2 separate regions of the Homo sapiens genome follow, and region 1 is linked to region 2. The links come from fine-mapping of genetic effects on gene expression. A gene starts in region 2. The other region holds a variant in brackets. All regions are shown on one strand. Distances are between the middles of the regions. Region 1 overlaps SF3B3 (splicing factor 3b subunit 3). Region 2 holds the start of COG4 (component of oligomeric golgi complex 4).

Region 1 (4,385 bases), 44 kb before region 2:
CCCACAAAATCTGCCAGGTTTGGTGGCATGTACTATAGTCTCAGCTACTCAGGAGGCTGAGTGGGAAGGATCACTTGAGCCCAGGAGGTGGAAGCTGCAGTGATCTGTGATTGTACCACCACACTCCAGCCCGGGCGACTGAGTGAGACCTTGTCTCAAAAACAAACAATAAATCCAAAAATTATTAAACCCTACAAATATTTTAAAATTCTCACATTTACTTAAAGCTTAATGCCTCATAAAACATGCTAAAGTTACTGTTCATCATTTCTTACGATAAGAATCATTTTGTTAAATTTATCAAGCTTGCCATAAAAAAGGAAAACACAAAGAAAATTATAGAAAACAGCAATCACTAGGCTTGTCTTCTAAAATAGATTTGCCCGAAAGTCCAGAGATGCTCTATTAAAGCAGCACATGCCTACAGGAGAAAGTAAAGCCCAGGACACACCTCAGAGCAGAGGACTGGGAATGGACTCTCTCTAAGAAACTCGCTACTCTCCAAGGAGATTTTTTGCAGATTGGTAAGAAAGGACTGTGGACGGACAGCACTCAGCACAGTCGTGTGCACTATGAATAATTCACCAAAGGCAATTTCTTCAGTGAGGGCAACAGGAAAAGTGCTAAGCAGTGTTCTCCCTGGGGCCCATTCTGCAATCTTACCTTCTGGGAGGCCCCATTGAGCAAGCCACGGTCCCACAGGGCTTTGTTTCCTGTAGGATCCTCATCTACTTCATCATTGGTGTTAGGTGGGAGCCTCACCTACAAGGAAGTGACACAAGTCACACTGCTGGGGCCCGGACCTGCTCACCTGAGTCACCAAGCAACAGGTCTGGCCAGGTCTTTGCAAGTCAGCCACAGGGGCACTGCCTAGACAGAGGCCTGAGCCCACGTGTCCTGCACCTGCTCTGGTGGGCAGGAGCTGTGTCTGAGGAGCAAGAAACTCAAAAGAATCGACCCATGAGCAAGAGTTTAACACAGCTAAGGGTAAAACCAAAACCACACAACATAGATAACAGACATTCCAAAGTTCTTATAAAATGTAAAAAGAAATATTAGCCATTAGCTCAAACTAAACCTATCATTAAATCACGTTCAATAGGGAGGAGGGAGATAAACCACAGAGAAAAATCCAAAAGACTAGTAAGAAGGCTTAAAGAACAGATTGCTTGTAGAGTTAGCTTTAGTAGGATGGAATTTTATATCCATTTTTACTTCTCAGATTTGATTCCTCCTTGGCTTTACCCACAAGAAACTGAGCCAGCTTTCCTACACATCACTGTAACCCAAGTTAACAACATCAACTCACCACACATATGTTGCCAAACTTGTCTGCCCCAGCCACAGTGTCATAGTCCAGGAGGCTGGCTGTAGTGACCCATCGGGGGTAGGTATCATCAGCAAAGATGATAAGCTGGTTTTCATTACGCTTGTAGCGAACCCAGATGAAACTTTCTTGGACATCAGATACAATTACCCTATGTCCGATAGTCTGGATCCCAGAGATATAATTGGCAATATGCTGGGAAAAACAAAGACAATAGTGATGGTGGGTGTAATCTTGGGGTTCAGAACCCAAAGAAAGCCCAGCTTTCCGTATGACATACGTAGGGTCAGCAGAACAGCAAATACCAAAAACCAGCAGTTAGCAATGAATTCTAGGTGGGAAAAAAGAGCCAAATAGCTTTTAATATAGTGCAAATATATGCCTAACTCTCACATTTACTTTCCTTATAGAAGCTAGCAAGATAGAAAGCTGGTTCTTGTTTGGTAAGTCAAGAAATGAGATCCCTCTACTCCTGCTCCTCTCAAAACTCAAGGGCCGGTGCGGTGGCTCACGCCTGTAAACCCAGGACTTTGGGAGGCTAAGGCGGGTAGATCATGAGATCAGGAGTTAAGAGACTAGCCTGGCCAACATGGTAAAACCCTGTCTCTACTAAAGATACAAAAAATTTGCCAGGCGTGGTGGCGCGCATCTGTAATCCCAGCTACTTGGGAGGCTGAGGCAGGAGAATCGCTTGAACCCAGGAGGCGGAGGTTGCAGTGAGCCGAGATTGCGCCACTGCACTCCAGCCTGGGCAACAGGGCGAGACTCCGTCTCAAAAACCAAAAAACAAAAAAACAAGGGCATAATTCTGAAGCTGGAATTGGGGTAACACAACAAGTCCTAATAAAGATAAGATTTTAAAACTCAATGCCCACCACCCCACCAATGCCCCCACCCTTGACACATGAGCTAGATCTCAGCACCAATGCCAGCACACTTACCTTATTCTCACATTTTCGGAGTAACTTCTTCTTTCCCAGGTCATAGACACGCAACAGCTTCCCCACACCAATCAACACCCTCCCCTGGAATGGGGCAATAGCAGCAGGGACCTCTTCCACAGGAGTCTATAGAGGAAAAGCAGGTAATACAGCTATTATAAATGCCAGCCAGACACAGGCCTCACCTCTCTGCCCAGAAATGCCTACTTCCACAGGAGCCTATCATTAAGAAACACACCAGTGAGCTTATTTTGCTAATGAATCTGGGTGTTGGGGTGAACAAGTTCCGCATGCTGCATTCACTCAGTAGAGGGATCAATGCTGTAACTGACAAGAAGTTCTGGTACCAGACGACTGCTGTCCAGAGCTTGTGCTCTGTTTAACTGGTGTTATTTCAACAGTGAAGCCTTAGTAGCCAAGTGACTGTAATTTGTGGAGGGACAGGAAAGAAATGCTAGTGAAAAGTGACTTTTTTTTTTTTTTT[TG/G]AGACAGGGTCTCACTACTGCTCAGGCTGAAGGGCTGTGGCAGGCGCAATCATGGCTCACTATAGCCTGGACTTCCTGGGCTCAGGTGATCCTCCCACCTCAGACTCCCGAGTAGCTGGGACTACAGGCATGTGCCATCAAGCCTGACTAATTATCTGTATTTTTCGTAGAAACTGAGTTTCACCACATTGCCCAGGCTGGTCTCAAACTCTTGGGCTCAAGTGACCTGCTCGACTCAGACTCCCAAAATGCTGGGATTACAAGCGTGAGCCACTGCACCCAGCCTAGTGACATCTCAGTTGTAAAGGAGAGACAAATTTAATATGCAAAAGGGTCTATGAAGTATTTCTTAGAGGATACTCCCCTTATGGTAGGGTTGAAGGAATCCACATGCTGTCATTGTGGAGAAGAGAATATTCTTTTTATTTTAAAAATTATGGTAAAATAGTCATAACATAAAGTTTACCATCTTAATCCTTTTCTTTTTTTTGAGACAGAGTCTCGCTCTGTCACCCACGCTGGAGTGCAGTGGCGCAATCTCGGCTCACTGCAACCTCTGCCTCCTGGGTTCAAGTGATTCTCCTGCCTTAGCCTCTGGAATAGCTAGGGTTACAGGCGCCCACCACCATGCTTGGCTGATTTTTTATTTTTAATAGAGATGGGATTTCACCACGTTGACCAGACTGGTTTTGAACTCCTGAGCTCAGGTGACCCGCCCACCTCGGCCTTCCAAAGTGCTGGGATTACAGGCGTGAGACACCATGCCCAGCCAGTCATTTTTAAGTATACACTTCAGTGGCATTAAGCACATTTACTGTTGTGTAACTATCACCTCCAGAATTTTTTTCATCTTCCCAAACTGAAACTCTGTACCCATTAAACAGTAACTTCCCAGAGAATGCAGGTGGAAAAGAATATTAAATCTTTTTTTTTTTTTTGACAGTCTCACTCTTGTCACCCAGGCTAGAGTGCAATGGCGCAATCTCGGCTCACTGCAACCTCCGCCTCCCGGGTTCAAGCGATTCTCCTGTCTTAGCCTCCCGAGCAGCTGGGATTACAGGTGCGTGCCGCCATGCCTGGCTGATTTTTGTATTTTTAGTAGAGACAGGCTTTCACCATGTTGGCCGGGCTGGTCTCGAACTCCTGACCTCAGGTGATCTGCCTGCCTCGGCCTCCCAAAGTGCTGGGATTACAGGCATGAGCCACTGCGCCCAGCCAGAATATTAATTATTTAAACTGCTGAATTTTGGTCACAAATTGTTGCCTGCTTATTAAAACAGTAAGAAAGAGACCAATTGAATGTGCATCTATCTCCCCATTATGGATGGTTAGCACAAAGCCTTCCTGTGGAATGCACAGGCACAAGAACATCACTGCAGCTAGAAGGCCCCAGCATTTTCCATGTGCTGGTAAGAGAGAGATTGGAATCAAGGAGCTGGTCCCCAAAAGACCTGATCCATAACATAAGCAAAAGTGAGAGAATTCAATGGGACTTAAAATCTAGGAGAACCACTGGCAGATTCCTACCTTGTGCAAAAACTCCAGTTTTTCCCCATTGTTCACAAGCTTGTAAGTATAGACGAAGCCCCCTGCCACAGATCGGGGGTTTAGTATCAGGTCCTTGGCCACACC
Region 2 (4,325 bases):
GACAGAATGAGACCTCATCTCAAAAAAAAAAATAAATAAATAAAAAGCACGGGACCTTGAGAAATCCAAGGTCATTAGTATAGAATTAACATACATATTTGATTTTATTGTTAAACGAGAAGAGAGAATTATGAGTAAACGTCCTCATAAATAACTTTCTGGGCTGAGCAAAAGCAGGGTGGCAAGATCAATGCTCCAGGCTAGAAATGGGTCCTGAGAGATATAAAATTTTCTACTTGAGACTAAGGTATATCTTTTTTTTTTCCTTTTTTTTTTTTTTTTTTTTTTTGAGGCGTCTCAATCTGTCGCCCAGGCTGGAGTGCAGTGGCGCCATCTTGGCTTACTGCAAGCTCCGCCTCCTGGGTTCACACCATTCTCCTGCCTCAGGCTCCCGAGTAGCTGGGACAACAGGCGCCCGCCACCACACCCGGCTAATTTTTTGTATTTTTAGTGGGGTTTCACCATGTTAGCCAGGATGGTCTCGATCTCCTGACTTCGTGATCCGCCCGCCTCCGCCTCCCAAAGTGCTAGGATTACAGGCGTTGAGCCACCGCGCCCAGCCCATAGACTAAGGTATATGTTTAACGTTCTAGGACCACAGTAAAACATGAACGAAAAGGACCGATGTTGAAAGACCAGGGAGTGGAGAAACAACAAAAAAAGCAAAAGAGAGGAAGCTAGGAGCTGCTTCTGAATCCCTGAACAGCTCCCCGCAAGTTACTTTTCATATTTTGTAGCTGATCAAAACAGTCTACTTTCCCCTTTCCTTATAACTGATACAATCCATTACAAACCTTTGGAATTCATTTTTTCCCAAATCTAGTTGGATTCAGGTTCTCCAGCGACACCTTAACTTTGGATCGTGGAGGAAGGTGCATTTCGGAGGATCAGTCCAGTACTAGAAAAACTATATACGAGGCCAGGCGCAGTGGTGGCTCACGCCTGTAATCCCAGCACTTTGGGAGGCCGAGGCAAATGGGTCACTTGAGGTCAGGAATTGAGACCAGCCTGGCCAACACAGTGAAAACCCCTCTACTAAAAATGCAAAAACTAGCCGGGCGCGGTGGCACACGCCTTTAATCTCAGCTACTCGGGAAGCTGAGGCGTGAGAATAGCTAGAACCAAGGAGGAGGAGGCTGCAGTAAGCCGAGATCAAGCCGCTGCGCTCCAGCCTGGGCGACAGCGAGACTTCGTCTCAAAAACAAAACAAACAAACAAAAAATACATACCAGATAAATTTGGTAAGCTTTAAAACTTCCCCCACGTCTGGGCCGGGCGCGGTGTCTCACACCTGTAATCCCAACACTTTGGGAGGCCAAGGCGGGTGGATCAAGGTCAGGAGATCGAGACCATCCTGGCTAACACAGTGAAACCCCGTCTCTACTAAAAATACAAAAAATTAGCTGGGCGCGGTGGCGGGCGCCTGTAGTTCCAGCTACTCGTGAGGCTGAGGCAGGAGAATGGCGTGAACCCGGAAAGCGGAGCTTGCAGTGAGCAGAGATCGCGCCACTGCACTCCAGCCTGGGCGACAAAGCGAGACACCGTCTCAAAAAAAGAAAAATTAGCCGGGCGTGGTGGCACGCGCCCGTAATCCCAGCTAGTCTACTCGGGAGGCTGAGGTAAGAGAATCGCTGGAACCCGGGAGGCAGAGATGGCAGTGAGCCGAGATCGCGCCACTGCTCTCCAGTCTGGGCGACAGACTGTGACTCCGTCACAAAAACAAAACAAAACAAAACAAAAAAAACTTCCCCCACGTCTGTTTACCATTATTACAAAAAGCTTGTATGATTGCTCACTGCATCTTCTCCATCCTCCAAGGAAACATCATCGCATTTAAACTCTGTCCTCCATTACGCAAACGAGAAAATAGAGGTTCAGAGGAGGAGACAAGTTGCCCAACTACCAAAATACAAATTCAAACCGGAGTCTTGGCTCTAAAGACTGTTTCCGTTATTTACGCTTTTAACACGCTCCATCTTTCTATCTTCCCCTCGGTGTACCATTTACTCTACCCAGAGGGAGACATCCATGCCTCCCGCTGCTTGTCACACCTCCCCCGTCTCAGAGTCCCCAGAAGTTAAAAGCAATCTCCACGAGCCCTATTTTGAGATAGAATATGTTCCCACACTGTGGATGGAAGCGAGAGATAACTGCAGGAAGCCGTTTTGGCGCCTCAACCATCCCTCGGTACCTCCTCCTGGTCCCCAGCCTCTCGGGCCTAGACTGCCCGTGACCCCCGCCAAAGTCTCGGGTCCCCCTTCCATATGGCCGGTCTCCGCCTCCCCGGGCCCGGGGAAGTCTCCAGGCTGTTTTTTTACCCTGCAGCGAGAAGGATGGTGTGGATATCCAACGGATGCTACCTCCCTTCAAAACTTAAGCCACCACCAACTCCAACATACTGGCGTCCGCCATTAGACCTCAAGACAGGGACATTCTGGTGGCGCGCGGCGGAAAAAGGCACCCAATCCGCGCCTGAAGAATATATATAATTTTTAAAAAATGCTTCCGTCTTGCTTCCACACGGCATTACAAATTATTTAAACATGCTTTATTGCTTTGCTTTTTCCAGGAGAATAGAAAATTAATACGTTTTTAGAAGTAGACTTTAAAAAAAAAAAACCATTAGAGTTCATTGGGCACTTCTGTGGGCAGCCCCAAATAGGCGCCAACGAAGAGGGGGCCTCGCGGGACCGGAAGTGCCGAATGGGGACCAAGATGGCGGACCTTGATTCGCCTCCGAAGCTGTCAGGGGTGCAGCAGCCGTCTGAGGGGGTGGGAGGTGGCCGCTGCTCCGAAATCTCCGCTGAGCTCATTCGCTCCCTGACAGAGCTGCAGGAGCTGGAGGCTGTATACGAACGGCTCTGCGGCGAGGAGGTGCGGGGTCGAGCCTCTTCTTTTTCATGGAGGATCTAGGGAGAGTGGGAGCCTTCAGTCGGGAAATCCGGGCTGTGGGAAACTCTCCTTGCTGGGGGATACAAAAAAGCGGGAAAACAAAGAAGCGGAAGCTAGTCGGGTATATGAGTAGTCCTGTCAACTCTTTTCACGCTGTCGGACGCGCCGAGCTTGTCTTCCCTGATACCTGGGCGATCTGCAGCCTCTCCTCCCTAGACCCCCGTTGATTTCCCTGATCCATGATCACCAGTTTCTCCACGGGAGTAAAGTTAGTCTGAGAGTATTTGCCAAATTGCTTGGTTCTCAAAATAATAAGCGCCCTTTTGCATTGGCTTAATTTACAAATTATGAAACGCTCTCATCCTGTTATTTAAGAGGGAAGCCTTTGCAGATTAACTTCTTGAAGCGTTTTAAGACTTCCTCTTGTGGGGAGTGATTTGGGGGTGTGATTTTAGCGTTTTGGTCAAATGCACATCTTTGTAGAGGTTTAGCTTTTAAGACTCAGACACAATTCTCTAATCTTGGACAAGTCACTTCATCTCTGGTACCCTTGATATTTTATCAAATGAGGGGTGTGGACTATTCTCCAATTCCTTTCAGTTCATAACGTTCTATTTCCTGCCTCCTTTAATTTTCAGTGGCAACTCGATGCTGTCAATTCACTTTCGAATGTCAGTTGGGTTCCTTGCTAGTCAAAAGAGATCTAAGCTCTAAGCTTGTCAGCTGTTTCCCAGACCAAACTTCTAGCAAAGTTGAGCACAAAAGGCAGTTTCAGCCTGAGGGAGAGGTGATCGTTGATATCTTTGAGTATTTTCAAGTATAAACTTGCACTAACTCTAGCAGTTTCTGATACGTTTTTCAGCAAGATGTGTGTGGTGTTTTTTGTTTTGTTTTGTTATTTTTAGAAACAGGGCCGCTCTCTGTTGCGCAGGCTGGAGTGCTGTTGTGCTGCAATCAGAATGGATGAAACCAGAGGCGCACACCACCGTGCCTGGCTAGTTTAGTGTGTGGGGCTTTTTTTGTCTGGCCTCAGCAAGATGTGTTTTAAAATTTAGTATCTTGCGGGGCGCGGTGGCTCACGCCTGCCATCCCAGCACTTTGGGAGGCCAAGACGGGAGGATCACCTGAGTCAGGAGTTCGAGACCAGCATGACCAAAATGGTGAAAACCATCACTACTAAAAATACAAAACTAGCCGGGTGTGGTGACGCATGCCTGTAATCCCAGCTACTCGGGAGGCTGAGGCAGGAGAATTGCTTGAACCTGGGAGGCGGAGGTTGCAGTGAACCAAGATAGCGCCATTACACTCTAGCCTGGGCAACAAGAGCAAAATTGTGTCTCTTAAAAAAAAAAAAAGCCTGGCGCGGTGGCTCACTCCTGTAACCCCAGCACTTTGGGAGGCTGAGGCAGATGGATCACGAGGTCAGGAAATCG

The links. PIP is the estimated chance that this variant, and not a neighbour inherited with it, causes the effect.
Region 1: its variant is the best candidate, but not a certain one, in a credible set for the expression of COG4 in monocytes after Pam3CSK4 (Quach 2016, PIP 0.52).

Annotation. Positions count from the first base shown.
Region 1 is chr16:70,565,420-70,569,804 of GRCh38, reverse strand. It overlaps SF3B3 (splicing factor 3b subunit 3), which reads right to left. Exons shown (of 26, transcript NM_012426.5): 20 at 4,281-4,385; 21 at 2,269-2,394; 22 at 1,310-1,522; 23 at 664-762. Among named protein-coding and RNA genes, the nearest start is that of SNORD111, 30 kb to the right of the region's middle. The variant TG/G (reference allele first, on the strand shown) is at 2,753.
Region 2 is chr16:70,521,922-70,526,246 of GRCh38, reverse strand. It overlaps COG4 (component of oligomeric golgi complex 4), which reads left to right and starts at 2,693. Exons shown (of 19, transcript NM_015386.3): 1 at 2,693-2,874. The coding sequence starts at 2,704. It overlaps SF3B3 (splicing factor 3b subunit 3), which reads right to left and starts at 2,431. Exons shown (of 26, transcript NM_012426.5): 1 at 2,319-2,431. RefSeq lists enhancers at 1,150-1,887, 2,921-3,060.